Homo sapiens: one gene and its partners. The protein of the gene in region 3 interacts with the protein of the main gene of each other region in a pairwise test. Each region holds a gene or a part of one and is shown on either strand. Other genes may lie near its edges.

The links.
Region 1: the proteins of RABGAP1L (region 3) and MECOM interact in binary tests that used the Homo sapiens proteins (3 or more experiments, as listed by UniProt).
Region 2: the proteins of RABGAP1L (region 3) and RAB36 interact in a two-hybrid assay, tested with the Homo sapiens proteins (one study listed by BioGRID).

Annotation. Positions count from the first base shown.
Region 1 is NC_000003.12:169,652,073-169,662,148, forward strand, and holds part of MECOM (histone-lysine N-methyltransferase MECOM), read right to left. Parts: intron 9,091-10,076; exon of another isoform or gene 8,764-9,090; intron 7,985-8,763; exon of another isoform or gene 7,033-7,984; intron 1-7,032.
Region 2 is NC_000022.11:23,153,486-23,163,561, reverse strand, and holds part of RAB36 (ras-related protein Rab-36), read right to left. Parts: intron 8,474-10,076; exon of another isoform or gene 7,916-8,473; coding exon of another isoform or gene 7,904-7,915; intron 7,595-7,903; coding exon 7,530-7,594; intron 5,960-7,529; coding exon of another isoform or gene 5,919-5,959; intron 5,571-5,918; coding exon 5,519-5,570; intron 4,665-5,518; coding exon 4,583-4,664; intron 4,400-4,582; coding exon 4,309-4,399; intron 2,684-4,308; coding exon 2,564-2,683; intron 2,063-2,563; coding exon 1,998-2,062; coding exon of another isoform or gene 1,939-1,997; 3' UTR 1-1,938. UniProt on the Homo sapiens protein: The small GTPases Rab are key regulators of intracellular membrane trafficking, from the formation of transport vesicles to their fusion with membranes.
Region 3 is NC_000001.11:174,161,267-174,171,342, reverse strand, and holds part of RABGAP1L (rab GTPase-activating protein 1-like), read right to left. Parts: intron 1-10,076. UniProt on the Homo sapiens protein: GTP-hydrolysis activating protein (GAP) for small GTPase RAB22A, converting active RAB22A-GTP to the inactive form RAB22A-GDP. Plays a role in endocytosis and intracellular protein transport.

The DNA of each region.
Region 1 (10,076 bases), on a different chromosome or scaffold from region 3:
CTAAGGTGAATCAAGTCTGAAAAAATGGTTGAACCCCCATTCAACCATTTAGAAATTTAGAAATCCATGAGCTGCTAAAATTGTATGAAAATGTTTCTTGCATGTGTATTTTCTGGAAAGAAGCTCCATACTTTCTATGAGATTCTCACAGGAGTCTGGGACCCAAAAGAAGGTCATGAACTATGACCCTAGCCAAAACTAAGATAGCTATTCCATCCCTCCATTCGTTTTTATTATCATTTTATCATGAAACATTTTATTACTAATTTCATAGTTCCCACCAAAGGTAAAGTCTATGCTAAGCATAAAAGCTGTGGGTCTTAGTCTTACCCTCACTTAGAGGAGTTCCCATTGACTTAGGAGCAGTCCTAAGTGCACAAGAAACCATATATGGCTGTTCTCGGTAAAAGAAAACTCCTAACAGGCACTAAAAGCCTGTAATCATTCAGGACTTGAGGATAGTTGTCCAAGACACAGACAGTCCTATTTTCTCTATAGAGATGGTTGATTTGTGAAATGACAGATGGGGGTTAGAGGAGTGGGGAGGGGCAGAGAAGAAGAAGTCATGTTTGCACTTGAATTAAGGGAACAGAGTTGAGTGAGTTGGGTTAATTTAATCAGTAAAACAAGATTCAATACATTATCTATCAACCTTAAATTGTTTGAAAGAAATCTTTAATCATAAAAGTGCATTTAAATATACAGCAAAATGCTTGACACCATGCTCTATATTAATAGAGCATAAATATTAGGCAGCAAAACTGCCTACATTGGTGTTAGGATTTAGGTAAAAACTTGGCTTCTGATGACTTGTAAACTGAATATTCCCAAATCCCTAGGAATTACATGAGTCCACAGAATGTTTTACCATTTCTACCTTGACTCCTTTGACATTCTCCAGAATCAGGTCTAGTACAGAGTTTAAGATCAATAACAATTTGTGATTTAAGTGAGGGGTCATGGGCAATACCTGCACTGGCAAAATGAGGGACATTATTGGTGAAAATTAGGAATAATACTCCACTTTCCAGGTGGTTTATCACTGTCAAAATAGGTCAATTGTGGATTTAGTATGCACTTGAAATGTCAGATATCCCAGAATTCTGGTGCCGACATTACTTAACTGCACAGGTTTTACAGCCAAAGAAATTGAAGGGGTTCACATAATCCACCAAAGCCCATTGCTAACCACCATCACCTAATCATATTGATATCTGCCATATGCAAAGCATAGTATTAGGCCCTATACAAAACAGAAATGGGCTCTCCAGGAGTTTTACAGTTTACCTAGAAAAATAAGATATATACCATGAAGACAAGCAATTTATAATAAAATGCCAAAATGATGATAAAGACAATTCCATACTATTGGAATGAAATAACATAGAAGTCATATCTCCAGGAGAGATCATGAAGAAGCAGGAGTTCAAATGAAATCTTAGAGGAGTTAGATTTTGACAGTCAGTGTACAGTATGGGTAGATTTACAAACTATGGCAACATTATGGCCAAAATTTGGATGGTAGAAACACAAGAGTAGGCTGATAAGAGACTGAGAGGTACAGAATGAGTAAACAAGGTAGGCTGAATGGACCAGTCTTGAATAAGACAAGCCTGAAAAGTCAATAAAATAATGTATTGAACTCTTATTCTATTTAAGGCACTCTAAATGCATTAGTTTGATCAAATCCTCACATGAGGTAAGTACCTCTAGTCCACAAGTAAGGAAACTGAGGCACAAAAAGGTTACATGGCTTGCCTTCATTTCAACCAGCTAGTAAATGGTGGAGCCAGGATTCAAACCCAGGCAAATCTCACTCCCGACCTGTACTCAGGAGTCACCACATTCTTCTGGCACAAAAGTAGAGCCCCTCAACAGCCAAGCTAAGGAATTTGAGATTCAGCATCAGGTATAAAGATTGAGAATGAGGTGATAACTCATTGATAATGCTTATATGCATGGTTCATCACTACTCAGAATCTTCCTCTAAAAGAATTGCATTATCCGATGATATTCCCAACAATATTCACTGATAGTGATATGTATTCACTGACAAGTCCCATGACTACAGTATTGAGTTAGATATTATAAAGTGCTCAGTCAAATCTTTATCAGGAGAGTCCATTGTGTTGACATTCCATCACCACAATTTTTAATCCTAAAGACTTAATTTTACCTGTTATTCACCTAACACTTCTGCTAGAAATACAACTCATGATAATAAACAGAGCAAAGTATGTTTATTTTCACATGTTACCCGAACATATATGACCTTCCTACATGGAAAGCCACTCTGCTCAAATAAGACGTTCATCCCTTAAAAACTTATTTCTCCATCCTAGGTTCAGGTCTTAAAAATCAGTTGGGTTCCTCAGTTACAGATGTACAGGACATTACATCTGGACTCTCCTAGGAGGGCAGGGGTGAACTCTTCCTCTGAATATCCACAGTAGCCAAATGACTCCTTCTCCCACTGTGGAAAACCACAGATGACTGTCTCCTAATGATTTACTGCCCAACCCCCAGCCCACAAATCAAAGAATTGGGTTTAGTGAGAAATAAGAAAGAATGGTGGCCAGTGGATACAAGAAGGGGAGGGAATGCTTCAGTTTATTTTCTTAAGCCAATTAATGATGAAACGGCATGGAGGGAAAGAAAGACACAACATAGTTGTAAAAGACTATTTTTCCAGATAAATGGCCAGATATCAGATTCTGTAATAAGTACTTCCACCTATCAAAACACACACACACACACACACACACACACATATTAACTTGAGGTGGGGAAGAAGATATAGATCTTAAAAACACAAGGTAATATTCAAAAACCATTCTGGATATCACCATAAAATGAAACTTTGAAGCACCCTTGGAAATCAATGAATCTGGACATTGCAAACCCTACAAACTATATATTGCAGGCAGAGGTGTTTGGTTGGGCCTGCAGAATTTTTTAAAATTGAATCAACATTTCATAAAGTAGAGAAAACTTACATAAAAACCCAGATTTGTGGCTTCTCTTAAAAAGTGGAAGACCTGGCGGCCCTGAACCCCCTTGCCCAAATGGTAACAGTGAGCAGGAGCTGAGAAGAAGCTGCCACCTTTAGAGGAGTCTTGAACTGCCAGTTTCCCACCATCCCCGCCACTCCCTCTTGTTCTGAAATACAAAGGCTGGGTGTCAAAAAATTAAATAAAAATAGGAGAGAGCTTAAGGCTTATACCCACCTTGCTTCACTCATTTATGGTACCTGCAAATTTACAGGCTCTGCTCTAGTCTAATCCATTCATTTAAAGAGGAGCAACCCAGCTGCAGTAGTAAAGTGACTTACAAACTCAATCCACTAAAAGTCAAATTTTCATTCAGGAGGGATTATTGCCTAATGATAACTAGAGAGTATGCAAAACTAAATTAGGGCTGTGTGGCTATACAATGCCAAAATCTGTGGGGAAAAGTTGAAATCTCAATCATTTTATTTACACATCCCCCTCACCCCGACTCCAAATAAAGGGCAAAGGAAGATGCTCAAGTTTTCAGAACAAATTTACTGCCTAGTTTGGCTTGGTATGGACAGTTTTAATGTGCCCAAATTTTAGATATGACTTCCCTTCATTCTGAGGGCATAATTTATTGAGAAGACATACAAAATGCTTACCGTAGACATGTAAATACTTTTAAAAAGGAAACTGGATAAAAACATTAAACAGGAGGGGAAAAAAAAGGATGTTTCTTCTTCAGAAAATTTAACTGATAAATTATAAGGAAACTGAAACCCACTAAGATTTATTGAGCATGTGCCTTAGGTACTTTGCACACATTATACCAATTAACTCTCACAGCAGCCCAAGGAGGGTAGTATTATTACTCCCACTTCACAAGTAAAGATGCTAGGCCTCAGAGGCATTCAATAACTTGAAGAGGACCTGACTTTTCAATCAGGGATCATGCCCAGATTCAAACACTGATGTGCACGTTTGTAATGCTTGTGAGAGTAGGGAACATGGTTTGCCCGTGCACAGGGCCTAGCACATTGATATTTGTTGTGTAAGCCTGCCCATCGCCAAAGCACAAAAACTGCCATGTACAAGCACTTTCATTCATAAATGTCATCATTTGAACAACCTTGACATATACAACTAATTCATTTAGGCAGGTTCTTGAACAAGGTTTAGGAAATGTTGGTTCTTTATGTTGTGTAGTTAATGACCCCTACACACATGTTTACTAACATAATAAAATCTCTTTTCTAAATAAATTTCTCCTTTAGAATTGTTATAAAAGTCAGTAGTCAAGAATTTGGCTGAATATACAAGCCAAAAGCACGTTTGCTAATGAATAAGAATAATAACTAAAATCAAAATAAGAATTAATTCAAGAATGAGTGCTTTTGAAGAGTCAGGAATTTGATTAAAAATTCAGTTCCCTTTTTTTCCATAATGAAACAGTTCTTTAACCACAAAACAGCTTTTATAATAATGCCGAAGAGTATGGTTCCAAGCAAAACACTCCCCCATTTTAATCATGGCTATTATTTTTGAAAATGAAAATGACTGAGGTCATTGTAATCTATTTTAGGGTTTGCATGGGTTGATGGTATTTTTGTCTTGGCTTTGAGTTCTCCACATTACCCACTAAATGTTATGGGCTTTACCGTGTGCCCTTTCAAATCCCATTCTTTCTAATAACATTGTATTTTATACACATAAATTAGAGTAAATTCCACTTTCTTTCCTAACAACTCCAGATGTGGTCCACACTTTCAAAAGGACTAGAACTTGCCTTAAAAAAAATTCAGTATGTACTTCTTAGAACAACTATGTTTCTATATAGATAAAAATGCTGTATGGATGTTTAAATGCTGAATAATTAGTAAAACCATAGGACTTGTGGTTTTTTCACCAAAGTGAAATATGAAGATAATATCTATATATTTACTCCTTCCAACTTACAAGGACATACACAGATAAAAAATGCCTAGAAACAAAACCATCTGGGCAGAGTTCTAGACCTACTGATACCAATAGGGAAGGGGGATCTGTATTCAGACAACCATTTAGAACACATCAGTGAGGCTCTCTGTCCCCTGTAGACCCAGTAGACAAAATTAACAAATATCTAAATACACTAAAGTTACACAGTCAAGGCTCCCTTTAGACGCAGTTAATATTTCACTTACTTTCTGAACTTAGTTGGGGTTTTTATTAAAATTCGCTATCACGATCCCTCTAGGTAACCCCTACACAGCCACACGTGAGAGAATGGCTTCACAATACATACAAATTGTGGAGATCTGGCTATTAAAATGCCTTGAGATCTGTTTGTTTATTTTTTTAAAATCAACTTGCAAGGCCAATGTAATAAGATGCTGTAGCTTTTATGAAAGAGGTGAAATAATTTTAAACACAGACACACAATGAGTTTATTTATTTAGAAACTTGTTAAATAGAGTCTGGGAATTCAAATATTCAATGTTGACATTGTACAGAATTGGCAAGAAGCCAGAACCCAGTCTCCAGAGGGACCCATTGGACAAGGAATTCAGGACTTTCTCTCCTCCCACTTGAGCTAAATAGGTAGAAGCCATTAGTTATACCCACAGCAATATCTGAACCACACTCAAATAAGCTGCCCCAGCCAGGGCACTTCAAAGGAGGCTAAGTGTGTTTAGCTTTTTAGTGCTGAACTAGAGCAATATGTCACACTTTTGAAAGAGTCTTGTAAACAGTTTCTTCCCTATGTAGAGACATCTCTGAAGTTTCTTGTATGGCTTGTAGTAAGCAAAGGTAATTAACAAGGATTATACTTTTTTCATTTCCTGGAGGGGCTGGGGAGGATAATACCAATCTGTGTGCAAACTAAGGATCTGGAAGAACTACACTATTTCTCCCTTCCTGTCTCCCTCTCTGGTTTTCTGATCGATTTGTCTGTCTCCTCTTTATCCTCTTCCTTACACTTGTTCTCACTATACAGCCAATTTCCTTGAAAATTCCCTGGTAAACTCTGAAGGCCAGAAGAGTGGGAAGGGGGAAATCTAATTTTAGAAAGAAGACCGTGGCTAGTGGAGTGGGGAAGTCGGGAGGGAACTAATGATTTATCCTGCGCCGTCCAGGAGAAAAGAAAAGCAGACCCCACAGACCGTTTTAGAAAATGCCTAGACAGCGGCTTCCAGCGGAAGAAGGGTTAACCGTCACTCCAAAAAAATGTACCTGGCATCATCAGAGTGTAACTTTTCCCTCCCACCCCATCTCTTCCCCAAACTCACTCTCCCTTGCCCTATGAGGCTAGGAAGGAGCCTGTCCCAACAGGGAGAGTGAATGAGTGAGTGTGTGCCTGCCCTCCGCGCAAGAGTGCTCCTTGTCTTCCTGAAGCCAAGACGTGTGTGGGTGTGCACACGCATGTGTGGGTGTGAGTTTACACTGTCAATGTAAACCCAGCTCCGAGGGAAGCAGCGCGCCAGGCACGCAGCCCCTCTGAGACTAGAGAGGGAAAGAAGAGTTCTGGCCAAACCTTGGAGCCCTGAGCTGAGCAGCCTGAGGAGCGAGGTGTAGGGGGCCCCCTGAGTGAGAAACTGCCTCCCACCTCACTGGGGCTTCCCCAGTCCCACCCCCACGTCCATCTTGGGCCACTTCCTCAGCACCAGACGGTTTTGAGATGAAGCGTGGGAGGGCTCAGCTCTTGGGAACAGGGCTCTGGGTGCCTTGGGAACAGGGAAAAAGCCGGTGACCAGGAGATGACAAGTCAAGGTTCTCCATCTCACCGCCCGCTTCCAGCGGAGGCAACGCGCAGGGGGGTGCCGGGAGAGAGGGGGCCGAGCCGGGCGTGCCGGGGGCAACTCCGCTCTCTTGTCCTTCTAGCCCGGGGAGGAGGGCGTCCCCCCTTCCTGCCCCAGGTCACAACTGCAGCCTCGGATAACCTGGCCCCAACTTACAAAAATAAAATAAACTCCCAAACAGTAACATGCTTAAAGAGAAATTGCTTACGACTCCTCACCTTCAACTCCAAAAAAAAAAAAAAAAAAAGAAAGAGAAAGAAAGAAAGAAACCAAAATTCGTGGAATGACATGTTAATTTCTAGTCCTACATGTTGAATGTCTGTCCCTGCAGGAAGCCGGCCCCAGGGCCCAGGGGAGGCCTTGGCTCAGAAAGCCTGGGAGCTGGGCTAGCCGGCAAAAGTCACACTCACTCACATTCACACACACACTCACATGCACTCTATAGCCAAGACCTGCAACTCTGCAGTCCCTACAAATAAAAAAAGAAGCCTTGCTTTTTAGCCTTTCTGCCTCTACAGCTAATGAACCGTTCCCTTCCACAGTGCTGGAGATGAGGGAAGAATGAAAAGCGTAATTAACCTTCCCCTAAACACAGATTTTTTTTTTTTTTTTTTTTTTTTTTTTTTTTTGCAAAACACATCAAAATACTGCAAGAAGACTGTGCTCCAAGTGCCAAATGCAATAAAGAAGCCCTAAGCCCGGGTAATGGTCAAGTAATAGCAAATAAACCGCCTTCCTAGAAGGGGCCTCGGCCTCCGTTGGGAGAAGGATTTTCCTCCTCAGAAGCAATCTGAAATAAACAAATAAAAGTATTTTTTAAAACAAAGCTCTGTTTTCATCTGAGTTTCTTAAGGATGAAGGAAAACCCAAGTAGGTGGGCATACAGAGAGTAAATGCCTGAATCTGGGTGTTGTGTTTGTTGTTGTGGGGGGGTTGTTTTGTTGTGTTTATCTCAGTTACTGGGCTGACAAGGTGAGTAGTTTAAGGACGGGAGAAAGGGTCGGCATCTACCTTTCCTACTTCAGAGCCTTTTTTTAAACAGAGAGCAAGTGTAGGAGTAACAAGTGCCCCCCTTGCCGCGGTCTTGCTAATCGCATCGCCTTTTGAGACTTTACGAGACTTCTGGGGGGCCGGTAGCTAAGGGAGTTACTGGATGCAACTCGTTCTCTGCTGTGACTGAATTCCCGCGCGTTGTCACTTTGGGGAAGTAAGGTAAGGGTGGCTTCGGTATTTCAGGCTTTAGACATGCTGCGCAGACCCAACCTGCACTTCCTTTCCATCCATCAGGACCATAGCAACTGGCATTTCTGGCACGGCCCAGGTGCTGTCCTAGCTGCCCAAGAAAACGGCTGGGAAGTCTCCCCGCGCTGCCAGAGTCGGTTTGGCTTTTGGTTTTCTTTTCTTAAAGATGGAAATAAAATTCAGGGGCGTTAGGCACTACAAATGTCAATCTTCCTGCCTTTCATTTTATTTTTAATTAAATTTTTTAACCTTCCCAAATGATTTACAACGAATTTATCGGTTTCAACTACTGTATAAAATACAAGCCTTACAAGTTGCAAACTGTGTTGTGCATTCAATCTCGGTGTAGATTCAGTGGGTATTTTCAGGGTCCGTGGTCTCTGGTCTAGGTCCATGGGCTCCTGTACTGTAGTCAAGGCCAAATCAGGACTTAAGACCACCAAAGAAATTTACAAAAGACAAAAAGAACAACAAGCTACCGAGAAAACAACTATTTATATGTAATTTGTTTCCATTGTAATGTTTTCTCTTGCCACAATAAAGGTAGTTTTGTTTTTTAAAGTATTGTAGTCACAACTCCCCTTCTAAACCCAGAAAAAGAAAAACTGGTGCAGAGCAGTGAAGTTTTCGTTGGATGATTGCACCGCAGGGGTCACCAACCATCTCCGCCACGCGCTACTCGGGGGAAGGAAATCGCGCTTTAAAATACAAAAATCTGTAGTTTTAATATGATTTCCTTTATTACCCAGATTGTAACTGAAGAATTGCAACGCAGCGCTTCTGTCTGGGAAAGGCAGCTGCGGCAGCAACAGCTGGAGTAGTGCAAGCGGGAATCTGAGGCTCAGTAAAAGTTTGTAAGAGTTGAGATCTAGCTATCAGAAAGCGGCAGCGGCATCCTTAGAGACCCTGGGGACAAAATAAATGGGTCTCCCACCAGTTGAATGACAAGTATCATCAGATCGGAAACGAGGCTCAGTTTCTGGATGCTGAGTGGACTGTGCGTGCGGGAATATTTTAAGACGGCATCGTATGTCTTGCTTGGCAATTAAAATAGTTGAAAAAGTTGCTCAAGAAAATTCGAAGGGTTTTGTGTTCTGCTTTCACTTCAGAAGTTATCGGGCAGTGAGTTGCGGCGCGAAGCCTTAAGCTTTCACTTCACAACTTAGGCATGGTTGAAAAGGGCTACCCACCCCCACCCACCATCCCACTCCCGCCAACTCCCCCCCCCACACACACACTCTCTCTCTCTCCCAACCTTTAGTCCAAATCGAAGCCCGCAAACCTCAAGTATATGTACATTTATTTCCCTTCAGATGAAAATAAAGACATCGGCCTCATTTAAAAGCAAACAGGGAAAACAGTTCCACCGGCGCCCTTTGACACTGTAGCAGCGAGTGTAAAGAACAACACCCAAAAGAGAAACAGATGGACTGATGACCCAAAGAGCCCTATATTTAGGTTGATTTCTCAGACCCAGGGGAAAGGAAATGTATCGGGGAGTGTACGAGTGCTTGGGTGAGGACTGCACAAAGCACTGGAAAGGCGCCTGGGATGACAGCATCTCGCGGGGCTACACCGCCGACTCCAATGCCCGCGAAGCCGAGCCTGCTGAGGTGCCGCCGACTTCCCGGGCTGCTGCAGGGACGCAGTGAGCAAGGAGGCGTGGATACGATACCTACCGTATTTGGTTCTAATGTGCGAGGGTCGCGCGGGGGGAGACTGGGATTTCACTGGGGAGAAGCATCCCACCCATCTCCGATCTCTCATTTCTGCGTTCCGTAAACAACACAATTAGAGAGTTTTGTTTTCGGCGAGTGCGAGTGTGGGAGAGAGAACCGCGGCCTGTCCACTCCCGAGGCAGCTCCAGCCCCGCCTATTGACACCTCAAGGAAGAGCGCTCCCAGCCGCTCCGGGGCTCAGTGTCCCTGAGTCCCCTTCAACTCGAAGTAGAAGCATTTGGACAAACGCAGTCCTGTCGTCTACAGTCCTGGCGGAGCATCACACCGTGTGGGAAAGTGTGGGCCCCGCCGGCAAAGCCAGGCGAGTCATCCAACACTTTTGC
Region 2 (10,076 bases), on a different chromosome or scaffold from region 3:
TAAACATACAACCCCTTTAAAAGTCATTTATGGAGGCCGGACGCGGTGGCTCAGGCCTGTAATCCCAGCACTTTGGGAGGCCGAGGCGGGCAGATCACGAGGTCAGATCATCGAGACCATCCTGGCTAACACGGTGAAACCTCTCTCTACTAAAAATATAAAAAATTAGCCCGGCATGGTCACACGTGCCTGTAGTCCCAGCTACTCGGGAGGCTGAGGCAGGAGAATGGCATGAACCCGGAAGGGGAAGCTTGCAGTGAGCCAAGATCGTGCCATTGCACGCCAGCCTGGGTGACAGAGACTCCATCCCGCCGCCCAAAAGAAAACATAAAAATGAATAAAATCATTTATGGCCGGGCATGGTGGCTCACCCTTGTAATCCCAGCACTTCGGGAGGCCGAGGTGGGCAGGTCACCTGAGATCAGGAGTCCGAGAGCAGCCTGACCAACATGGAGAAACCCCATCTCTACTAAAAATACAAAATTAGCCAGGCATGGTGGTGCATGCCTGTAATCCCAGCTACTTGGGAGGCTGAGGCAGGAGAATCGCTTCAACCTGGGAGGCAGAGGTTGCACTGAGCCGAGATTACGCCATTGCACTCCAGCCTGGGCAACAAGGGTGAAACTCCATCTCAAAAAAAAAAAAAAGTCATTTATATAAAAAACTACAAAAAATATGTTGAAGGGGGAATGAATAGAAAAAGATGCCAGTGTTCTTCCCTAACTGGTATTTGGCAATCGCTGAGCTGAACATTTACAGGGCAGCTGCAGTGTGCCAGGCCCTAGGAGAGCAGTACTGATCAGAAGGCTGCCTGCAAGGTGCTCGCCATCTACGGGAAGCAACAGCACGAGACGGGTGGGATGAGTGGGCATAGCCAGGTGACAGGGGCCTGGGGCTGTGGGGCTGGTTCATAGCAGTGAGAAAACCCTGTGGATGAGCATACTGGGCAGAGAGGCTGGGGAATGTGTGGGGTATTTCTGTCTGCTCTGCATGTGCAGGAGGCGGTGTTGGAGACAGGAACATGCTAGACTTGGCAGGGCCTCTGAAGTCCTCTAAAGGTGCATGGACACCATTACAAAGGTCCTAAGAGATGTATAGGCCAATGAGAGAGGGATGGAGAGGCAGCAGTGGGCACAGGCCCAGCATGAGTGCCAGAGGAGGGCAGTGCCATGTTCAAGGGCTGCAGAGTGAGTTACCCTAGGACAGCTGTGCAGTCTGCCTCCCGCAGCACACAGGTAAATGCACTGTCCAGGTGGGCCAGAAAGGCCTGAGTGGTTGTTCTGCACATCCTGGCCCACGGACCAGGAGGGCAGGACCTAGGGATCTCAGAGGTGCCAGAGATAGCCCTTCAGCCAGAACAGGTCTAAGAGACATTTTGTCCATTGTCCTCCAGAGGTGCTGGTCTGCCCAGGAACCTTGAGCATCCGTGGCAGAAGGACAGTGAGGCCTGAAGCTCTGAGACCCAGAACCATAAGTCCTGCTGACAACAGAAAACTCCCAGGGGGAATGGCAGGTGGCCTCTCCTTCAGGTGCTGACTTTGACAAGTCCAGGTTGCCTGGAACACTGTGACGGATCCTGGGGACACATCCAAGATCGCTGGGAAAGAGTGCAGGGTTGACTGCTGATGTGGGCCATGGCCGAGTAGTATAGACCGACGCAGGAGTTTGCAGTTCTGAGGCCTCTTGAGGCCAAAGGTGACTGTCTGATGACCCTGCAAATGGACTGGCCTTTTATGGGATCACCACAGTGCCTGCACTGGCCCGGTGGTGTGGGGCTCCCAGGCAGCCAGTGGGGGCCTTTTCTAGTGCCCAACCTGCAACGGACAAGTGACTGTGCCCTGGAGCTGAGCCCGGTGGGTGGGTGGAGGGACTGGAACATGGGCCTACAGCTTGAGGGCGACACGCTGCAGAGCTTGGGCTCCAGTCTCCACACCACAGTCACGGAAATTCCTGTCCGTGTGTGTGCAGGGAGCGGAGGCCTTCCACGCAGGCCCCAGTTAGCAGCAGCCCAGGCTGGAGGGCCTCTTGCTCTCCTGGGTCTCGGGCGGACTCCCTTCCATTTCTGTAAGGAGGGGAGAAGTAATTTAGCATCAACCAGGAATCCTGTAGCTGACACTGGGCAGGGGATGCCGGCCCTGACAGTCAGAGCTGTGAGCTGAAGCTTCTGGGCCTGCTGTTCAAGGCCTGAATGGCCTGACACAAGCCAAGAGAGGGCCTTCCAGGCACTGGAACAGAGAGGGCAAAGGTGCAGACTGGGAGAGCCGGGGCCAGGACACATCTGCAGAGCCTGGGACGCCCAGCCTGGGCTATGAGGACCTCATGGATGCCCATGAGGTCCATGTGTCAGGAGAACAGGGAGGGCTAGGGAGGGTGTCTGACCTGGCAGGTGGAATCAGAGGGGCTACAGGCCTGAGGCTGCAGTGACACCCTGAGAGGAGGGTCAAAGGACAGGAGAGGGCCACAAGTTCAGGAAATGGCAAGGCCTCAGGTGACGAGGATGGCGCATGTGGATTTTAGGCCTCCAGCCTACTCCCCAGCCCAACCCAGTCACACCTATACTCACGGATTAGGTCTCCATTGCCGACCTGGAGCCGGGCACTGCTCTGCCTCTCCAGGTCCTGCAGCACCGACTGCTCGAATGCCAGGGCGGCTACGCGGCTGAAGAATGCCTTCACGTTCTCGCCTGTGGGCCCACAAGACAGCCGGGACCTCATCAGTGTTTCTCCTTGCCCCTTAATGCATCTGGGTGTGAAAGCCAGGCTAGCCTACCCTCAGGTTGGCACGTAGCCCTTTCTAGAGCACCCTGACAGTAACAATGACCCCAGGAGGGCACAGCCCCACCCACTCACACAGGCAGCACAGTGCCAGGGGCAGGGTCCACTGGCCTGGCCTCCCACCTGGCTCCAGCCTCCCAACTCCCACCCCACTGCCTGCTTGGGCCACTCCCTCAAACTTCTGAGCCTTTGCTTCCCAGCATCTACTCTTCCAATCAGATGCTACTATGGCCCAAGTGTTGGAAGATGTGGAACTCAGGACAGATATGTGCCTGCCCTCCTGTCACTTTCCATACCTGTCCGGTGGGGCTGTGAGGATTGATTTGCTGTCAGCCCCCACATGGAGCCTTTATGCATCCTCCTCCAGGTAGAGGTGGCTGCCCATCAGAGAGCGGGCTGGTTTCCAGCCCTTAACACGCACACTGCCCTTGTGCAGCCAGCAACCTGCACAACCGCATAGGGCAGTCCTGCTTGGTCCATAGTGAGCTGTCGGTGAACTCACTGTTACTCTGATAAGGGAGGAAGGGTTCTCACAGAGCAGTTCTCACTGTTGGAAAGGAGCAGTGGAAGGCACTGCCAGTTGTTTGCGCTGGGCTGAAAGTGGTGCTTCTACTTGTGACGCCAACCCTCAGTGCTCACCCAGTCTCCGACTAGATATCTGCTGTCCCCTCTTACACAGGGTAAAGACTACTGGGCCCAATTCCTGAGTCCCCAGAGCCTTGGGGGCCTATTATGTGCCAGGCCCTGCGTATGACTTCATTTCATCCCCCAACAACCTGTGTTTGCCATCTGCTCTTTGTGTCTTTGGATTTTCTGTTTTCCTCAGTAAATACACCTGGCTTTTGTAATTTAAAACGTTTTTTCACAAAAAAGGGAGATGGATGGCATCACCTGCTTCCCAGATGAGATGGAGGCTCAAAGATGCTGGGCATCTTGCCTTGGGCTGGGGACCCAGTATGGCCAGGGGTAGACCCGGTGGGGAGTGAGTTCAGTGAGAGCTGGGGTCTTTGAGCCACAGTGATACTGGGAAGGGATGGGAGCCCCTGTCACTGGGCCCTTCTCTATGCCAGGTGATGTCACATGCCTGGCATTTCAGGGCCAGAGGCAGGATAGTGCAGTGGTTACAGGTGAGGGTGTGTTTGGATCCTGGCCCTGCCACCCTGTGGCCCTGGAAGTTACTTCACAGGACTAAAATGGAACGTGCCTCATGAGTAGTTATGGGGTAGTTATGAGTAGTTATGGGGTTCTCCGGTTATGGAGAACAGGCCAGCACGGCATGACACAGGGTTGGGGTCACTATTCCCCCATCCGTGAGGCAGGCCTCCCAGCTTCCTTCTAGAGATGACGCAGCTCCTCTTAGGCAATGAAAGTGCTGCCAGGCACCAGCACAGCAGGGCTGTGATGCCAGTGTGCACCAGGGCCACAGAGGGAACAGACGACTGGCTACAGAGGGAAACACTGCATGGCAGGCCCCACAGGACTGGCCCAAGAGCAGGGCTCTGCCCCACCATGGTGACAGCCCTGGCCCACTCACCAGTCTTGGCCGACACTGACCAGTACTCGGCCTGCATCTCCCTGGCCAGGTGCACAGCGTCTGCTTCGGCCTGCTCACATGCGGCCCCTGACTGGGAGAAATGGCCCTTGTTGACCCAGCGTCCCGGCTCTCCTGCAGGGAGGCCCAGGGGGATAGGCAGCTGCCTGCTTCCCACTGTGCTGCCTCCCTCCCTCCCCATGGCTCCTCCAATGAGGGCTGTAAGGGGAGGCATTTTCCCAAGGGCCACCCAGACCACCAGTGCCACTCTGCTCACCAGAAGGTCCTTCTTGGTTCCCACGAGGAAGATGAAGCAGGAGCCTGCCTCGTTCTCCCTCAGAGCATCCTCCAACCACTGCCTGGAGTGTAAGGAGAGAGGCTGAGAGATTCACCCATCCTCCCACCCCAAACAGGGGGCAGAGGGCACACTTGGGACCTCCCCAGGGCTGAAGTGCTGGGCTGGGAGGGACAAGGAGGGCTTCCTGGCCCACACTGGCTGAGCAGGATGCTGCACCTCCAGCCGGAAGGGCGTTGGCTGGACCCAAAGGGGTGGGAATACCAGAGCACTGGCTGGAGGTGGTGAAGACCCCTCCTGGCCCCACCTCTGGCCTCTCCCGGTGAGACCTTGCATGAGCCCTGCATGTTTATCAACTAGAACCATCACCCCCGCCTCCCTCACGGGGTTTGGAAGTTGCTGGGTGTGAATGCCCCAGACCAAGGTAAGGTGAGAGGGCTTTGCTCTAGTAGCTGGCCGATTCCCAGCAGAAGTAGGATAGCCTCTTGAATGGGTCACATTGCCAATTCTCTCTTCTCAAGACTGCAAGTGCCAAATTCATGTCACTTCAAAGACTGGCTATACAGTTTTCAGGGCCCACAGTGAACTGAACACGTGGGGCACCTCATTCAAAAAGTATCCGGACTTGCAACATGGCAAAGGCAGTGTATTAAAGCAGGTTGGGGCCCCTCTGAGCACGTGCCTGGGGGTGGCTGTGCTGGGCTCACACTCATGTGCTGGCTCCTCCAGAATAGGGACAAATCTCAAGCGATAAAGGCAGTTGGACAGTAAGTAGTCCGTGGGCAGCTGGTTCTGACAAGGGGCCCTGGTCACTCACACCCACCACGGGGTCAGGGTCCACTGGCCAGGGTCTGGGAGCCCTTCCAGGCAGCTTCCTGAGCCCAGGGAGACTGCAGGGGCCAGAGAGCCCAGACTTACCTGGTATGCTCCAGGGTCTGCACGTCAGTGAGGTCAAAGGCCGTGATGATCACTAGACACCCGGAAAAAGCCAACAGCCAATCAGTGCCAGGCGAGGCGAGCAAGGGGGCTCCCCAGGAGGTGCCCAGCTCCCAAGGAACTGCCAGGGCAGCCCCCCAACCAGGCACTCAGCACCGGAACCTCCTACAATGAAGGCTGAGGAGGAAACACCCCATGGCTGTCCCCCACCGGGACCCTCCAGCCTGCACCCGGCAGCCCAGCCTCAGTGTGGGATCCAGGGAGGCAGGACAAGGTAGGCGTGGAGCGAGCGCATGGGCTTTAGCGTCAGACACCCTCTGCCACTTACGGCTAAGGGAGCTCAGGTGAGGGCCTTAACTGCTGAGAGCCTCAGTTTTCCCACCTGTAAAATGGCGAGGACGAGACCTGTAGCTCTCAGGGTTGCTGTGAGGATTAAACAAGAGCAGCTGTTTTAAAAAGCTGTTAGTCGCCAGGCGCTGTGGCTCATGCCTGTAATTCCAGCACTTTGGGAGGCTGAGGCGGGTGGATCACTAAGTCAGGAGATCAAGACCATCCTGGCTAACACAGTGAAACCCCGTCTCTACTAAAAATACACACACACAAAAAAATTAGCTGGGTGTGGTAGCCGGCACCTGCAGTCCCAGCTACTCGGGAGGCTGAGGGAGGAGAATGTTGTGAATGCGGGAGGCGGAGCTTGCAGTGAGCCGAGATTGCGCCACTGCACTCCAGTTTGGGCTACAAAGCGAGACTCAGGCTCAAAAAAAAAAAAAACCTGTTAGTCCAGGGCCAACTTTCATTTCAACCAACAGCAGCTACAGCAGTGATGGTTAGCAACAACCTGCTTTAGCGAAACAACTTCCGGGGAGCCAGGTGGGCAGAAAACCGGGAGATGCAGCCTGGGCCCTCAGCTCCTCTCATCACTGGCCGCACCCCGGTCCTGTTGGGGTCCTGAGGGGAGCCCTATGTGGAGAACATTCCAGGCAAATGCTCTCTACTGCCCCCAGGGGTGTGACCAGGGCCGGACAGGGGCTTCCTCTGCACCTTGGCTGAAGGCTACAGGGAGACCCACGCCCCTCCCAAGGCAGATGGGAAGAGAAAGGAAGGGGGAAACTGAGGAAAGGGATGACGGCAGCCAGGCTGCCATGTGGAGAGGTGGGCCAGGCGCCTCGCACCTCTTATTCCCAGGGGAGAAGCATCCTTTCAAGGAGAGGCCCGAAGAGGCGAAGGGTGCAGGAGGCCATGCGACCAGGGCAGAGCTGGAGCTCCAACCCACGGCTGAGGGCTGCCTGGTTTGTTTCCTATTTTTGCTTCTTTTAAGTCTAAAAGAAAATGTTGTAACTTTTTCACCACTACCGAGTAGACATATCGGTGCCTTATAATTTGAGTCTGGTTTTGGATACTTTTGAGGTTCTCTCACATCTCCCACTGAAATCCATTTCTGTCTTCTTCCTGGGAAGGTGGGGTAGGCATCCGGAGCTTATGCTGCCGCCCCCTGCTGACGGTGAGCCCTGCCCAGCACCACCTGGCTGCCCTTGGCCATGGAAGTGGTGAGCATCCGGCCCTGCTGGCCCCCACCTGGGGCCTCCCAGTCCTCCCGTGGTCCCCCTTTCACTCCTACTCCCTGGCCCAGCCCCCTCTGCTAAGACAGGACAAGCCTCCTCCGACCTCCCCCTGGAGTCCAGTGCTGCCCTTCTCTGAGCCTCTGGAAAAGCACTTTCATCTCTGAGCATCTTTATGAGCTGAAACTGGGGCTGAGACTTAAAGCCAGCACCCACTACCACAGGGTCCTTAAAGGGTGTGATCGCCAAAGTCAGCCAGTGCCTGGGGATGAAGGCAGCTTCCCTGTTCCCAAGCAGTGGCCTGGTGTTTTCTCAGTGGGTCTTGGAGGACAAAAAACTGGTGCCTGTGCAGAGAACTCGGGATTCCCACTGTGGAGCCCGGCAGGGACCCCGCTGCTGCATGCAGTTGAGCCCCGACGTGGCATGTTGCTCACCCTGGGCACCCCGGTAGTAGGCAGATGCGATGCACTTGAACTTCTCCTGCCCAGCTGTGTCCCAGCTGTGAGGTGGGTGAGAAAGAAAGGGAAATGGTGTCAGGCTACACAATCACAGTGTCTTGAGCCAACAGGCTACGGGACCATGGGTGGGAGACCCTAAGGGCCTGTGCCAGCTGCATGGGCTTCAGGAAGTGCCTGTTGTGAGCCAGATGTCCCTACCCCCAGCTCCTTATGATCTCTTCCTAGGGTGCCCCCAGTGGACTTCTCTCATTCCTAGTGGATGGGGGTGTGTGGCATTAGTTGTTCTGCTGCCTGGATGGATGGAGTTGCAGCTCACTCCCTTCTGACTGAGACATTAAAATGGAACATACGGCCCAAGACATGACTCGCTCTGAAGATGTAGCAGTCCACTTGTAGAGAAGGCTCTGTGAATGGCACTGGGGCTCCAGGCGGGGCCTCCAGCAGTGGCTCTGCCACTTGGTTGGGTGATGGGTGTGACTGGGTCATTGCTTCACCTTCCACACTGCAGGTCCCAAAGTAGGAGTTGGAGATACCTAACACTGGAGCAATAGGTGGGTCTCAGCAGTTAGCTCCAGCTCTCTGGAGCACAGTAGTGAGAAGAAATTAGAAGCAAAGCCCTGGCTCCATGGAAAAGAGTACAACAATCGATTAATGATGTCTGCCATGGGCACAGTCTAGAAGAGGGGAAAGAGCACCTACTGAGATCTACCTGCCCTGGCTTAGAACAAGGCAGGTAGTCACTATGCAGGGCTGAGTCGGAAAATTGTTCCCCAATCCATCGCTTTTTGAGGTCAACTGATCAAAATTGAACTTTTCTCAGTAAACTGCAAAGTAGACAAGTCACAAACAAGACATCTATGGTCTGATTTTTTTCTTTTTTTTTGAGGTGGAGTTTCGCTCTTATTGCCCAGGCTAGAGTGTAATGGCATGATCTTGGCTCACTGTAACCTCTGCCTCCCAGGTTCAAGCAATTCTCCTGCCTCAGCCTCCCAAGTAGCTTGGATTACAGGCATGCACCACTGTGCCTGGCTAATTTTGTATTTTTAGTAGAGATGGGGTTTCTCCATGTTGGTCAGGCTGGTCTCGAACTCCTGACCTCAGGTGATCCACCCGCCCTGGCCTCCCAAAGTGCTGGGATTACAGGTGTGAGCCACCATGCCCGGTCATGGTCTGAATTTTTTTCAAGTGATCCAGTATGACACAGAAGTTTGGGCTTCATTCTTTCATTAATTCATTCATATTTTCTTTCATTTCTGAAGACTCTGGGGGAGGAGCTGGTGGTGGTGGCCTAGAGATGAGCCCGTAGGGAGGCTGGCAAAGGCCTCAATGTAAGACAATGAGAGGCTGAGCCAGGACAGTGTCCCTGTTTTGTCCAGGGCCCTCTAATGAGATATGGCCTGTGGTCACACGGGTGAGCCCAGCCCCCAGCCAGTCTTTCCCGGCTCCACCTCAGCTACCCCCACTGGCCCTTTGCTCTTCTCAGCTCTCTGGATCCCTCAGTCCTGCAGCCCTGCGTTCTCTCCCAGCCTCCTTTGCTCTTGACTGGCCTGTACTCTCCCTTGGGCAAGATTTGTTATCCTCCATCTCCAGGGCTTTGCTGGGGCTGTGGAAGTCCTGAGAGAAGGGGGCACTATCTCGACAGAGTTAGGAACTGACATCCACAGGATCTGAAGGCTCAGTCCAGGCAGGGCATGGAGGATTGAGGAACGAACTCAGGCACCAGGAAGGAGCTTGGTGAATGCCAGCAGGCAAGTGGAGAGGAGGGGGGCGGGGCTAGCCATGTAGGGGAGCACGGAAGGGTCTCACAGGAGAGTAGAGGTGAGGGCCCGAGCCCAGGCAGGCCTGCAGCATTCTCCAGGTGCCGGGGCAGAGGGAAGCTACCCAGCTGGGGTGGGAGAGGGTAAGGGGTGGGAGAGTGGCCCTGGGCCACTCAGATGGAAGGCAGAGGGAAGGGGTAAGGCCAGTGGAGGCCATCGTGAGTCAGACTCCCAGGGCCTAGCAAGGAAGACAAACAGAAGTGGGCCGGGTACGGTGGCTCACACCTGTAATCCCAGCACTTTGGGAGGCTGAAGCGGGTGGAGCACTTGAGGTCAGGAGTTCGAGATCAGCATGGCCAACATAGTAAAACCCCATCTCTACTAAAAATACAAAAATAAATTAGCTGGGTGTGGGGGCACACAGCTGTTGTCCTACTTGGGAGGCTGAGGCAGGTGATTCGCTTGAAGTGGAGGTTGCAGTGAGCTGAGATTGCGCCACTGCACTCCAGCCTGGGTGACAGAGCAAGACTCTGTCTCAAAAAAAAAAAAAAAAAAAAAAGACAGAAGTGGAAGGAAAGTGAGGCTGGGGAGAGGGAGTGAAGGCTGCAGTGTGAGGAGGAAGACGAGTGCCTCAGACCTGAGGAAGGATGTGGGTGCTGTGTACTCCATCTCAGCCCTCCTTGCCCAAGCCTGGCATGCAGGGACTGGATTTGACCCCATTTTACAGGTGGGAACAGAGGCTCAGAGCTCAGCAGCAACCTGCGGG
Region 3 (10,076 bases):
CATGCTGTATACCTTAAATATAAACAATTTTAGAAATGGACAAAGAAAGAATGGTGATTATTGATGATCTAAGCTAAAATAAAATTAAAAAGCTCTTTTGGGCATATCTCGCTAATTTGAGGATATTCTAACAGAAAATAAGTAACCCATAACAAAGACTCATAGATTATTGATGTTGGAAGGATCTTATAGGTCACCTGTTATTTACATATACTCCTCATTGCAGAAAGAATTCAGGCTGCTAGAGATCATCTGATCCACTTTTTATAATACATCCCTACATTTCTGCATTCCTCTACCTTTCACTCACAGATCCCTTGAACCCACACAAAATATGTCTTTATAGATAACTTTTCAAATATTCATCTGTTCAACTTATTTTATAGCATTACTGATTACAAACAAATATGTGTACAAGATTTCAAAGATTTCTTTGGTGTCTCAAATATTATCCAATAAAATGAATACACCAGAGACATCTGTGTGTTCTTTTGTACATCTTATCTTTTTTGATTCTCATAACTATCCTATGAAATGTGCAAAACAAGTACCATCCCATTTAAAGATTGTCAATACAGAGTAGTAGTAGAGAGTCACTGTGAGACAGATTTAGAAGCAAGAGATAACTGCCTCTCACAAGCTACGTGATTTTTTTTTTTTTTTTTTTTTTTGAAACAGCGTCTCACTCTGTCCAGGCTGGAGTGCAGTGGCGCAATCTCGGCTCACTGCAACCTCAGCCTCCCTGGTTCAAGCGATTCTCCTACCTCAGCCTCCCGAGCAGCTGGGATTACAGGCACATGCCACCACGCCTGGTTAATTTTTGTATTTTTAGTAGAGATGGGGTTTCACCATGTGGCCAGGATGGTCTCAATCTCCTGACCTCGTGATCTGCCCGCCTCGGACTTCCAAAGTGCTGGGATTACAGGCATGAGCCACGGCGCCTGGCTATGTGATCTTAGGTAAGTTACTGAAGTTCTCTAATCCTGCTTCCTCACCTGCAAACTGGAGATGATATTATAATCGTTCCTACCTCATATGGTTACTGTGAAGATTAGCGAGATAATGTACATTTTCTTATGTAATAACTACCCCATGTAAACACTCAATATTAGCTCATGGTTAATGTGCAAAGAGGAGAAAGAAGTTGTGTCTAAATTACTTATTCTCTCTGAATTTCACAGCAGCACTAGATCAAGAATTAAGGTTCTATGTTCTATCTACACTGTCTCCCACAAAACCAAAAATGTTTGTAGTTACTTGCATTTTAAGTATTTTTTTCCACCCTTGGATAACTGATAAAAATGTCTAAAAGCTACTATTATCCTCCTCTAAGTGAAATTCCCAAAAGTTGAAAAATTGTGCAGGGTTTAGTGGCTCACATCTGTAATTCCAATGCTTGGAAGGGCTGAGGCAGGAGGATTGCTTAAACCCAGGAGTCTGAGACCTGCCTGGGCAACATAGGGAGACTCCCATTTAAAAAATTAGCAGAGTGTGGTGGGTACAGTCCTATAGTCCCACCAGCTACTCCTGAGACGAAGGTTGGAGAATCGCTTTGAGACCAGAAGTTTGAGGCTGCAATGAGCTATGACCGTGCCACTGCACTCCAGCCTGGGCAACAGAGAGATACCCTGTCTCCAAAACATGAAAAAAAGGAAAAATTGTTAAAGGTCTGTCTTTAGAAAAGTAAATACTCAGTGGAACATAATGAAGTTACCATGCAACACAATGAAATTTATATTCAAAATAGGAAGTATTAGATTAACTGATAAACTGGTTTCTCTTTCCTACTATTACTAGATTATCTTTTAAAAAAACTTTATCTGGGCCAGGCACAGTCACTCACGCCTGTAATCCCAGCACTTTGGGAGGCCAAGGCTGGCAGATCACGAGTTCAGGAGTTTGAGACCAGCCTGGCCAACATAGTGAAAATACTACTAAAAATACAACAATTAACCAGACATGATGGCACGTGCCTGTGGTCCCAGCTACTCAGGAGGCTGAGGCAGGAGAATTGCTTGAACCTGGGAGGCAGAGGTCAGAGGCTGCAGTGAGCCAAGATCATGCCACTGCACTCCAGCCTGGGCGACAGAGCAAGACTCCGTGTCAAAAAAAAAAAACACCTTTATATTTTCAAATGGTAGGGATGGCTAATTTATTGTGTGTGATACCAACTGCAACAGGAGAAACCTGTTTCATCTATCAAAGCTATTGATAATGTTGACAAGAACTATAAAATGCATGTCAGAATGTTTTTTAACTTAAGAGGCCTACATTATCATATGTAAAATAACTCAGAAACAGAAAGTCAAATGCCGCATGTTCTCACTTATATGTGACAGCTAAACAATGGGTACACATGGACATACAGAATGGTGGATATTCAGGTGATGGGTATACTAAAAGCCCAGACTTCACCACATCTATACATGTAAGAATCTATACATGTAAGAAATCTGCACTTGTACCCCATAAATATTTTTTTAACTTTTAATTTTTTAAACTTAAGAGGCCTAGCCTCAGTGAAAATTTAAGCTGCATAATTCATGCTGAAAAATTTTCTATGTTCATTAGTGTTGGCAAAAAGGTCACCCTAGGATTTGAATAACAGTAATATTTAATTTCATTTCCCCATTAACTTTGCCAGGAATCTCACACTAGTGTTAAGGTAACTTCTAGAATACAGAAGGAAAAAAGGAATGGAGAGAAGAAGACATTAACTGAATTACCATTCAATACCAACTTGATCATGCAACTTGGTAATAGATCTTTGCGCAGACAACAGCAAATCAAAACATTAGTCCAAATATGACCACTGACTTCAGGGCAAATATGAGAGATTTAAAATGAAAGAATACAGTTCATGAGATTTAAAAAAAAATGGAAAAAAGCAATAATAAATGAATGAGGTCTGGTGATAAAACAGCTGCTCAATAACAAAATTATTCTAAAACAACTTCAGAAACCCTACTGTCTGCCAATATATATATAACCTCCCTTCAATGGTTGATTTTTCAATGGTCAATTTTTCACTAAAGTAGTATACTCTATTCAATTTTTTTTTTTTTTTTTTTTTTTTTTGAGACCGAGTCTCACTCTGTAGCTCAGGCTGGAGTGCAGTGGCACGATCTTGGCTCACTGCAACCTCCATCTCCCAGGTTCAAGGGATTCTTGTGCCTCAGCCTCCCAAGTAGCTGGGACTACAGGCACACACCACCACATTCGGCTAATTTTTGTATTTTTAGCAGAGGTGGGGTTTCACCATCTTGGCCAGGCTAGGCTCAAACTCCTAGCCTCAAGTGATCTGCCTGCCTTGGCCTCCTAAAGTGCTGGGATTACAGGTGTGGGCCACCACCCCCGGCCATCAATGTATGCAAGATAAATTGACTACAGAAAAATAAACTATTCAAAGAAACACCTAATAACCATTCTAACAACTATTCCTTTATACAATGCTCTCAGCAAAAGGCCTCACAATGACAATTACGACATCTTGAAGCACAGAAAACACTCCATGTAGTTTATAAAAAAAACTAGTGATATGTGTCTCTTAAACCTTCATAACTCAAAACCACAGGTTTGTATTTTTTCTAAAAATAATATTTATTTGCATCACTTGTAGTAGAAGTCTGATTCTTAAAGTCTTCTAATTTTGCTTACTGCTAATAATGAGAATGGTAAACGGGTGTATGTGTGGGGTAAAGGAGAAGTTGAGAAATTCCTCACTGGTATATGAATGAATTCCATACTTGCCTTTTAAAATGTGCTCCTTTCTTGAAATTGGGCATACAAAAACTCCCTTTGGGTTTGCATTACTTTCATATTTGTGAATACTCACATGGTAGTCTTCAAAGAGCTAGAACACTTGTTTTCAACCATTTGCCAGGTGGGTGTATTTTCACCACAAATTCCAAGAACTAATGATATGTAAATATATATGTATGTATGTCTACACATACATATATGCACACTATGTGTATGCGTGTATATCTTTACAAATGTTTACATAATTTAATTAAGGGCACCATCATTATACTTTTTACCACACACACAAAAAAAATGGTGGCAGAAAATCTGGAAAGATTCTAATAACCTCAATTCGTGAAAACTAACATGCCTCAAAAAAGAGGGGGAAAAAACTTTAACAGAAACACTGTGCTGACATGATTAGCTTTATCATTTAACTGGTGTGAGGCATCTGGGCCATGCCATATTTGAACTCTTATCGTGGTGTTTGGGGTGTGCTATATTGTGGAACAGGTCACATGAAACTGCTGACACCTTCTAAAATGGTAGGACAACATTTACATATTAGGAGCTTACATAACTGAAGAAAATCGTGTGGCAATGACACAATTCATATTTATTTTAGAACCACGGCTCATCTCAAAAACTCTTTATCAACTATCCAGAAGTAGCCCAGCTTTTTACCAACCAAGTAGTTATTTACTATAGCAACTTCTTTACCAACATTTCCAAAATTTTCCACACACTTCCATGATGAGCTATTAAGCAGTCTCTGTATGTGTTGTTACCTGGGCAACACTCTAAGAAGGCTTTTACCTTTACAGAACTGGTGGGTCAAAGAGAAGCAAGGCTTCTTCAAATCGACTACACACTATTTAATTAGAAGCAGTAAGTGTGAAATCATCAGCAGACAGAAAAGCTTGAGAACTGCCACCAGTACTTCAACTTGATTAACAGACACAACTTACTGGCATTTATACCTTCATTTCTAGCTACCCAATTCCCCTGTGAAACAAGGCAAGTTCCATCCAAGACTTCAAAACATCTTCAGTCATACAGGCTGTCAAAGACATAAATGCTGAAATCTAAGAAAATTCTTGGAATAAAGAAGCCATCAATTCCTTACAAGTGGATTTTGTATAAAATACCCTGCTTTGCTGCCCTAAATTCTAAAAGCTACTCAGCTTAGCTGCAGATCTGTATAAACTACCCTTCTGCCTGAACTAAACCTGCCTCCAAAAATTAAGATCCAGTCATTTAGAAATCACATTTTAGAAGGCCCTTGTAAAGACTTTCAAAACTGCTTCCTGTTCTACTACAGCCAATTTGACGCTAATGAAGAAAAACAAAAAACAAACAAAAAAAAAACACTGTCTCTCCTTACAAATAAAATATTTTTCACTTTCCAACACTTTTAGGATTGGTAAACTCAAGGTTGCTTCTCTAACACTAATAATTTTTCCCTTCAGCTTCTACTCTAAGGATACTTATGTGCTCTCTGGATCATATTTTAATCATAACATATAAATCCTGTTCAATGTTAAGAAGTACTAGATTACTCCAGAGTCAAAAATGAAAGATAAACTGAAAAGCAGAAAGGAAAACTGGCATTCTAGGCTCTTAACCATCTGGTGCTAACGGACTCTTTCTTGCCTAGCTCTTTCACTACTCATTTTTCCCTGTCTATGCTTGTATGCCTTTGATCACCCTGGCCCCTGGCCCAGAAAGGCCTTTCTCTCATACTAGTTGTCCTATTTCCACATGTCCAAATCCTACCCATTCTTCAAAGCATAGTTCAGGGGCCGGGCGTGGTGGCTCACAACTGTAATCCCAGCACTTTGGGAGGCCGAGGCAGGAGGACAGTTTCAGTCCAGAAGTTCAAGAACAGCCTGGGCAACATAATGAGACCCCGTCTCTACAAGTAATGAAAAATTAGCCAAGCATGTTGGTGTGTGCCTATATAGTCCCAGCCACTTGGGGGCTGAGGCAGAAGAACTGTTAGAGGCCAGGAAATCAAGGATGCAGTGAGCTGTGATGGCACCACAGCACTCAGTTTGAGTAACGGGAGTGAGATGCTGTCTCCAAATTAAAAAAAAAAAAAAAAGTAGTTCAAATGTCACCTCTTCTTTTATCCTTAAAACTAAAAGTAGACCGGGCACGGTGGCTCACGCCTGTAATCCCAGCACTTTGGGAGGCTGAGGCGGATGGATCACCTGAGGTCAGAAGTTCAAAACCAGCCGGGCCAACATGGCGAAACCCCGTCTGTACTAAAAATACAAAAATTAGCCTGGTGTGGCAGTTGGCGCCTGTAATCCCAGCTACTCAGGGAGGCTGACGCAGGAGAATCACTTGAACCTGGGAGGCAGAGGTTGCAGTGAGCCGAGATTGTACCACTGTACTCCAGCCTGGGTCAAAAACGAAAAACAAACAAACAAACAAAAATAAAAGTAATCTCTCCCTCCTCTCTAAACTCTTATAGTTCCTTATCTTTATCTTTTTACCACCCATTACTTTCTGCCTTTCATTATCACTGTTGTTTCCATATTTAATCCCCCACCTAAGCATAAAGTCCTCAGGGTCAAGGTCCATCTTTATTCAAACTGATTAACACAATCCCTTATACACACTAAGTGAGGTTAGGAAAGAAGCCCACCAGAAACAACTCCAGATTGAGTCCAGAGCCCTGGCTTTGCTAATAACTCACTATCTGACCTTGGCCTTGAGGCTCTTAGTATGTTCCTTCACTTACAAAGTTAAGAGGGTAGGCTAAACTAGTTGTATTTGTTGTTAAATGTAGGCTATAATCCATTAGCTGGGTGTAAAATTAATTTGGAAGTCAAAACCCAGCATTTTTAAAATGAAATGAAATAACAGAATATATCAATGTGTGTTATAAGCAGTGGGGTGCTATAAATGTTTAACAACTACCTATGAGGAGGGAAGCCCTAAGAATACCATTTGCTGAATTTCCTGGTGTAAATATTCCCACCATGACCAATTTTGAGCTACCAACATGATGTCACTGGACAAAGAGCTAGATAGGAAGAAATATGCACAACTGGTCTTGCAAGCCATTATAGCTAACTCAGTAGGGCCCTGAAAAGATAAATATTATTTCACCAAACTTTCAACTTTGTGTGTGTGTGCGCTTGCGGAATCAAGTAGTAAAATGTATTTTTTATTGTGGGTCACAGTCAAATGAGTTTAATAAATGTTCAGGTAAACAATCTCCTGGTGTCCTTCATGTATACTACATAATTTGATAAATCTTACTCTTGGTTACAGATGTCTCTTCACCACAATTCATATTTTTCTTCAAAAATGGGAGTAACAAACTGATATCACCAGAAGGCAAATTACACAGAGCAGGAATTTGGTTTATGGAATATCAGCCAAGTGCCAAGGTTTTTAGCATTTGTTCAGCCCTACATACCTGAAGGATATAACACACTCCTACTATCAATGGCTCACTTAGCAATGGGTTGGGGGGCAGGTAGGGGGTAAGAGGAGGAAATCCATAGTATAAAAAAAAAATCCAGATAATTCTAGTATTTGTGCTCATGTTCCCACCCCACTGAATACCCAGATACACAGAAAATTAGAGCAGTAAAAAGTAAATGTTCCATGCCTGATGTTTCCCAATCAAATTCCCTTGCATCCCTCAATGAGACTTCCATTACTAAGAATCACCTACTGGAACTAAGCTTTTACCATGGACTAGGGATGCATAGTTCTTGCTGAATTTAGAACAGGCAACAGGGAAAATAACACAGCAAACAGTTGTTAGGCTTCATATTCTGGGAAAATCAGCCTTTTATTAAAAAAAAAAACTGTCTTATTTTCCTCTTATTTAAGCTTACTAAACTGGGTGAGAATTTTCTTAAATATATTTTTGGCTGTACTATGTCTATCACAACACAGCCTGTAACCAGATTTTTCATGAGTATTTATAAAGAATTGTGTTGTTGTTGGGTTTTTTTTTTTTTTAAGCCCAACAGCACTGGCAAATGTTTTCTACTTTAAAAGCTATTTAGAAAATAAGAAGGCTCAGAATTTCAAGTATACTAATAATCTTAGCCCAAATCTAACTCTAAATCAACTGAATATATGCCTAGAACTTTCCCAGGAAAATCCCCAAAAAGTACACCAAAAAACACCAAAAGATAACAAAAAAGAGTTAGCATGCGCATAAACTTCGTATACCCAATTATGCCATCCCATCTGTTGAATAAGAGCAATATGGGAAGTAAACGAAGTATAAAAAGAAGATGTTCAGAGATGCAAGCTCTTCTTAATTCATTAACTCTTCCTTATTAGGGTCCACTGATGTTCACATACTTATACCCAATTCAAATACTGACTATAAAGTCAAAATTATTTCCCGTTCTGAAAGTCTAGGAGTCAAACAATGTCTTTCTCTATAATATCAGCATTAAAACTCTCCTTTAAAAATGAGTATGTTTTACCATAACTCAGGCTCAAGTCCGTACTTTCTCCGCCTCCACTGTTTGTAATGGCAAAATGCTCATCAGATCATCTCCACAAGAAACCCCTGAGCCATCTTTGAAATACCAGCACCTGGTGCGCTGCACCCACTAACTCATCATCTAGCATTAGGTATATCTCCCAATGCTATCCCTCCCCCCTCCCCCCTCCCCACCACAGTCCCCAGAGTGTGATATTCCCCTTCCTGTGTCCATGTGATCTCATTGTTCAATTCCCAGCATGGCACATGTATACATATGTAACTAACCTGCACAATGTGCACATGTACCCTAAAACTTAAAGTATAATTAAAAAAAAAAAAAAAAAAAAAAAAAACAGAAAGAGAAAAAAAAAAAAAAAGAAATACCAGCACCTGGAATAGCCTTGGGCTGCTGGTCATCCTCAGACTCAACGGCTGACCCATTTATATAAGTCAAGAGTTATAAAAATATAGAACTCATTAAAATTAAGACATAAGCAAGCTCTGTGCCTGGGAATCCCATAGGCTTACAGCAACAACTTCATTCTCCAAACCCCCTCTAACCAGTCATAATGATCCATACCCCACTTGAAGACAATGGTAGGTTGGAATGCAGGCCCACTTCTACACCTTCAATATAGGAAATTTTTGCTACTTAGCCACTACTCTCTTCAAAGTCAATCTCTTGAAGCCTAGCTATCTCCCACACATATTTTTACTTGGCACAACAGAATTCCTTCTTTTGATTACTCCAAAAGCATGGATAAAAGGACTTTCTGCTTCAATGCTGTATCATCTGAGAGTTCAAATAAATATACAATGGCTGAGCAAATTCAAGTTTGGGTTAAGGCAAAGAAAAAAATTCAAGTTTTTTAAAAGTCACAAATTTAGAACTGGAGAGCTGATCACATGAAAACTCCTGTTTCACATGCCTAATAAAATTCTTTCATTCAAAGGAAAAAAAAATCATAACTACCAGCGTAAAAAGAAAACATCTAAATCATGAAACAATTATCAAAGAAACAAAAATTCTCAGAACATCGCAACTGTAATATATAGAAATTCCCATCAAATAACTCAGGTGAAAAAAAAAAAAAATGGGACAAGCACCGTTGGCTCAGGCCTGTAATCCCAGCACTTCGAGAGGCTGAGGCGCAAGGACTGCCTGAGGCCAGGAGTTGGAGACTAGCCTGAGCAACATGGTGAGACCCTTGACTCTACAAAAATAAAACAAAAAATTAGCCAGGTTTGGTGGCATGTGCCTGTGGTCCCAGCTACTCAGGAGGCTGAGGTGGGAGGATCTCTTGAGACCAGAACTTCGTGGCTGCAGTGAGCTAGGACTGAGCCACTGCACTCCAGCCTGGGCGCCAGAGCGAGACCTTGTCTCTTTAAAAGAAACAAACAAACTTCATCTATTTACAGTCACACTTTTTTAGGTTGGTTTGTATATTCACCATATGCCCCAATAGTACTGAGACTTACTAACTTGTTTCCAGCTTTCTAGAGGACAATGTAGGTTATATAATATGTTCACATATAAGCTCTACCCTATTTCATCTACTTCTCCCCATATGACTTACTAGTACACATCAGAGGCCGGGCGCTGTGGCTAACGCCTGTAATCCCAGCACTTTGGGAGGCTGAGGCGGGCAGATCACCTGAGGTCAGCAGTTCCACCAGCCTGACCAACATGGAGAAACCCAGTCTGTACTAAAAATACAAAATTAGCCAGGCGTGGCGGCGCATGCCTGTAGTCCCAGCTACACAAAAAGCTGAGGCAGGAGAATCGCTTGAACCCGGGAGGCGGAGGTTGTGGTGAGCCGAGATCGCGCTGTTGCACTCCAGCCTGGGCATCAAGAGCGAAACT